Regions from separate parts of the Homo sapiens genome. Here region 2 is linked to region 1. Evidence: fine-mapped expression QTL. A gene starts in region 1. The other region holds a variant in brackets. All regions are shown on one strand. Distances are from middle to middle.

Region 1 (2,923 bases):
GAGTTCCCCTATAAAACAGTGACTGCCCAAAGAGCAGCAACAGTTTGTAAATCATTCCATTCATGCTGCCTAGAACAAAGCTGCAGTTGTGTTTAGTAAAGGTTTATCAAATGGATGAAGACTGGTCACTATTAGTCTTGACCCCTTCTATTTGAAATATGTGAAATACACAAAGTAAAATATAATTTCTGATAGGGGCTGATATCAGGAACTGTAGGAGATCTGTCCATTGAACCCAAGGTCTTACCTATTAAATCTCTACTGTTGCCAGTCTGCGCTCCTGGATTTTCAAGGGGCTCCGTGGAATTGGGAGGCTGATGAAGCTGGTGACCACCCTCCGTAAGCATGCTGTGTTGGTGATTCCAGTGCTTACTCCTTTCCTCAAATGTGGTCATAAGAAGTCAGGAAAGTCAATATGCTTTCACTAGGAAAAAAGGAGGAAAGCCTGCTTTAGTTGGTTGTTACATTTTTGATGAGGCGAAAATTCAAACAAAACTGTAACCACAAGGACCATTAATTGTTCTTTCCTGCTAATAACCATAGTTAGCCAATTGGATTGTGAGTGTGTGGCATGCTTGTATTGTGTATGTGAGTAGGGAATGCACGTGCGTTAAAGTTCACATGTGCTTAAGAGCTTAGACACACCCGCAATTTGCAAGACAGCTTCATGTCCTGATGTGGCCAAAGCTGTGTAAGAAGCCTGAGCTGTAATTACTCCGCACAAATTTACATCCTGGGGTACTCACATCATCCTGTGGTCTGTATGCTCTGTGGCTACACACCTGGCTGAGAACAGAATTAATGATGAGAAACGTGCCTGCTTCTCTGCATAAAAGATGATGTCTGAGTAGAAGGTCGCCAAGGGAGGATTAAGAGCAAGAATGCGAGAATGTGCTCAGGAATCCGTGCGTGAGATGATGAGCTTGTGAGCTGATGTTGATTCTGTGCAGTTCCCAGTGTCTTATTCACAGGCAAGATTTTCTTGCTCATCGTTCAGCCTTCAATGTTTTAAGCAAAGATTTTTAAAAAGATCTAACAGGAAACGAGGAGCTGCAGTGAAGCTTGGGCAGTCAGTTCGAATCTGAATAAATATTTGTCAGATTGGAGAAGCGCTGAAAGCATTAAGATACTTGGAGATTTCTCTTTTTCTTTGGCAAGAAGCATGACTGAGACAGGTAAGGGCTAGGAATTCTTCCGGATCACTCCCTCCAACAATGGTCTTTCCTTTGAATTTGCACTTTGGAGTCTGACACAGATTAGTGCTTCCTAGTCCTCTAACTGTAACACATGCCTCAGTTTCCCTTCTCCGATAAGATTGCAATATCTTTGGGTGCAGGAAAAAAAATAGTTGATCCTTTTCTTTGTAGCCCAGCAAGTTCCAGGCACATTAGAAACTGATTAGAAACTGGTACACAAGTGTTACTTGCTTAATTTATTATAAATGCTTTAAAAATGAGGCAATGACTATCATTGAAAAATAAAACCAAACTGTGAAGAACTTCTCTCTTCCTGTTAGTGGAGACTTTCCACAGAATTTTTTTTTTTTTTTGGGAGGCAGTGGACATGTTGAGTTTTCAATTGAATATTTTGCTGCAAACAACTTAGGAGGAGAGGAAAAAAGAAAACGCAAAGCCAAACAAAGCTGGTATTTTTCAAGTGCTCATTAATTTCAAAACCACGGTGTCTTTCATTGATTTTTTACCATTAAAAAGGACAGCAATGCCCATCTGCTCAAAATTCCATCCAGAAATGAAATTATGAATTAAAGCTGTGTTACACATGCACAATTGAGACATCCTCTGTTTGGGCCTGCCAGATGACACACTGAAACAGCCTGGGGTCTGCACTTGGGGTGCTGCCAAGGAAGCAGATACACGGCTGATGAAAATCATCCATCATTTCAAATCAGAGGTGCCATATTCCTGCAGACTCCTGTTATGAACAATCTCATTTGATCTTACATTGGAACAAGCTGTCTTCAACACTCAGGCCTGGCCCCAGGCACAACGAGGCAGATGGAATAGGAATCTCTCATTCCATGCCTGCATTTGCCGGAATTCTAGGATTTTGTCAGAAGTTTTCTTGTGTGAACCTAGCCTGACAGGATTAACTTCACTGAGTTGTGCTTCAATATCAGTTCTTACCTCCTTCAATTTGTGCCAAAACTCTCATGGAGGACAGTGTTCATCATTTTTTCACTTAAAACCATATATATGAGTCATTATATAGAGCGATTCTTTTTAGATTCAGTTTCCGGGAAAAAAATTAAAAAGTCACATGATCTTTCTGTCTGCTAATGATATTATGCACGTTGCTCTTGTCTCTATTTTTGCCTTGGCCTCCAGGAAGCTCACAGCCACGTTTTACACTCAAATACAGAAATAATATTACCATATGCTAGTATTACCGTATTTGTGATACTCTTTTCTGTTGATCCTTAGTTTCCATTTCCATTCTTCTTTTATTAAGCCTAACACGTTTTTTGTTGTAAGCTATATCAAAATCATTTTGGAGAAAGGCCAGGCTTATATAAATGATAAAGCATAACCATCTTTTATTTCCCAGCCAAGTGGTTTGTGTTTTAGAGTATATACTTTTAGAAGAAACAGATTGTTTCTTTAAACAGATGAAAATCAAATATCTTCCTTCTTCATGAAGTTAACCACGGTTAGATCATCCACATTGATACAGATGCCTGATAAAAGATCAGGATTGCGTTTGACAACCAGGTTTCTCTTACACATTCTCAGCAGCTTTCAGTCTCTGAAGTTTTTAGTCTTCTTTATTTACTACATTAATCTTGAGAGTAAACAAGGTTCTTATCAAAAATTAATATTTTAATATTAAAAGAATTTATTAGAAAATAATTTATTTAATCTTTTAATATTTAAAAGATATTAAATAAGTTTACAAAGACAACAGC
Region 2 (2,923 bases), 19 kb before region 1:
GATAGTAAGTAACAAACTCATTAAACCATTTCCATTCTTGTCTTAGGGGACAACGTGGTGCCCTCCCCTTTTACATGTTGCTTCTCTTATCAGCTTCACTGGCTTTGTCTACTAACCCCATGCCTGGGGAATTATAAGGAAGGGATTCGGGCACCGTGTTGTCTGCGGCATGAATCTTGCCAGGCTGTGGCTGTCACCAAGGTTATTGGACACTCCTCCCTGAGCAGGACCCACCTGGGAGGCATGCAGATGACAAGTGCCACTCAACCTTTTCCTCAGTGCCTGCTGGGCCCCGTGTGCATGTTCAGGTAATGAGAGGAACCTCGGAGCAAGTGGAGTAAGTGAGTGTGGTCACTCCAACAACAGACCAACCCATGAGAGGTCTGATTTCACGTTAAAATGGGAAATATTTGGTTGAATGGAATTGACGGAAAGGCAGGAATAGCCTTTCTCATTCCCTCATGGATAGAAAAAATGCACAAACCACGTTATCTGTTGGGTTGCATGGAATCGCTCTGACTGTTTTATTACCACCATTCACGTAGCATTTTATGTGAAAGGGAATGCTGGGCGCAGTGGCTTACGCCTGTAATCTCAGCACTTTGGGAGGCCGAGGTGGGTGGATCACCTGAGGTCAGGAGTTCAAGACTAGTCTGGCCAACATGTGGAAACCCTGTCCCTACCAAAAATAATAATAATAATAATAATAATAATAATAATAGTAATAAATTAGCCAGGCGTGGTGGCGGGAGCCTGTAATCCCAGCTACTGGGAGGCTGAGGCAGGAGAATTGCTTGAACTTGGGAGGTGGAGGTTGCTGTGAGCTGAGATTGCGCCACTGCACTCCAGCCTGGGCAACAGGGCACCACTCCGTCTCAAATAAATAAATAAATAAATAAGAAAAAAAGAAAGGGAATGCAGGTGTGAAAGCTTCCGATTCGTCACCTAGCAAAATTACACTGAAAAGTCCCCAAGCTCTTTGAACCAACTGCAAGGTCGTCAGCTTGTAGCCTCAAGTCCTCATGATCTATCCCATTACTTCATATCTCAAAAAGTCTTAATATGTGTTTTCCACAGTGATGGCCTCTCATTGGCCACCATGTCACTCTCACCTCAGGGTAAAGAGGTTGTGTCATGCGGCTTAAAACCTGGGCACATAGATGGTTACTTTGGCAGCGTTCTTATATAAACAGA[T/G]GAAGACAGCTGATAACATTAGCAACTTCCTGTGTCATCTCGTTTTTCTCGGGCACTTGCTTCTCTGAGATTATTTATGTTTTCTGTATTAGTCCATGGCAACCGCTTAACACAGCTGCACCAAATGTCATTCCCAGAAAGATCAGTTGCTTAGTCTCCTTGCCTCCATTCTATTTTGGGAGTGGCATGGACTTTTGGCGATGCCCAGTTGAGCTCTTGTCCACATCAAGTTATGAGCGGTGGTTTGTAAGAGAGTTTGCCCCTTGGCCTTGGTCTTTAGGAGAAAAAATAAATTCTATTCATTTACTCACATGCCATCATTACTCATATTTAAATTCTAAAAGATTAAAAACAAGAAACATTTTTTTCTGCATTAAGAAATCTAAAGTTTTAAAAAATCTCTAATAATGAACTGAGGTAATACATGCATTGATAAACAAAATGGAAATAGTATAGAAAAACAGAACTGATAAACTGATAAAAACATAACTGATAAACAGCTGCCTCCATTTCACACTTCCTCACCCTAGCAACTCCTAGATCATCCCAGAAAACATTTCTACTTTTATTCCTGTTGGTTGCCTACAGAACTCTAAATAATATATTTTCACATCTCTTCTTTGACCTTTTTAAAAATTAGCCTTTTTTTTTTTTTGAGACAGAGTCTCATTCTGTCACCCAGGCTGGAGTGCAATGGCATGATCTCCGCTCACTGCAAGCTCTGCCTCCCGGGTTCACGCCATTCTCCTGCCTCAGCCTCCCAAGTAGCTGGGATTACAGGTGCCCGCCACCACACCCGGCTAATTTTTTGTATTTTTAGTAGAGACGGGGTTTCACCATGTTAGCCAGGATGGTCTTGATCTCCTGACCTTGTGATCCCCCCGCCTTGGCCTCCCAAAGTGCTGGGATTGCAGGCGTGAGCCACTGCGCCCAGCCTAAAAAATCAGCCTTTTTTTTAACACAGCTTTATTGATGGGTAATGTACATATCATAAAACTCACTAAATGTGTAATGAAATGAATTTTAGCAAAGTTACAGAGTTGTGCAAGCATCCCCACAGCCCAATTTTAGAACACACCTATCACTTCAGAAGATCCCTCTTGACCACTTGCAGTGATTTCACTCTTCAGTCCCAGCCACAGGAATTCCTAATTTCTTTACTGGTTCTATAGATTTGCCTATTGTAGACATTTCATAAAAATGGAAATAACCAATCAAATTCAGACAATATTTATTGACTTTCTGATACAAAAGATAAAGATTTATCTCGCTTATAGAACTGCCTTCCCTGTCTCTATTTTCCCCAATTTTTGGTAATTATATATTATTTTAAAAATTCCTATGTTGGCTTTTTTCTTTTTCAGACGGTCTCACTCTGTCACCCAGGCTAGGATGCAGTGGCGTGATCTCGGCTCACTGCAACCTCCGCCTCCCGGATTCAAGTGATTCTCCTGCCTCAGCCTCCCAAGTAGTTGGAACTACAGATGCACACCACTGCGCCCAGTCAATTTTTGTATTTTTAGTAGAGACGGGGTTTCACCATGTTGGCCAGGCTGGTCTTGAACTCCTGGCTTCAAGTGATCCGTCCGCCTCAGCCTCCCAAAGTGCTGGGATTACAGGCATGAGCCACCGCACCCAGCCTATGTTGGCTATTTTTGTCATTTTAAGCAATATATTCCTTCTATTTGTGTGCGTGTGTGTGTTGTTCCATAAGCCTCTGTCAACGTCT

Direction of the effects. Positions count from the first base shown, and alleles are read on the strand shown. Sizes are in standard deviations (SD) of each study's normalised expression.
With allele T in place of G in region 2, the expression in atrial appendage of the gene that starts at base 1,426 in region 1 is lower (large effect, 0.81 SD a copy in GTEx).

What was found. PIP is the estimated chance that this variant, and not a neighbour inherited with it, causes the effect.
Region 2: its variant is fine-mapped to the expression of LINC00327 in atrial appendage (GTEx, PIP above 0.99).

Annotation. Positions count from the first base shown.
Region 1 is chr13:23,468,015-23,470,937 of GRCh38, reverse strand. LINC00327 (long intergenic non-protein coding RNA 327) reads right to left here and starts at 1,426. Exons shown (of 3, transcript NR_038995.1): 1 at 747-1,426; 2 at 248-424.
Region 2 is chr13:23,486,950-23,489,872 of GRCh38, reverse strand. LINC00327 (long intergenic non-protein coding RNA 327) reads right to left here. Exons shown (of 3, transcript NR_038995.1): 3 at 2,409-2,923. Among named protein-coding and RNA genes, the nearest start is that of LINC00327, 19 kb to the right of the region's middle. The variant T/G (reference allele first, on the strand shown) is at 1,195.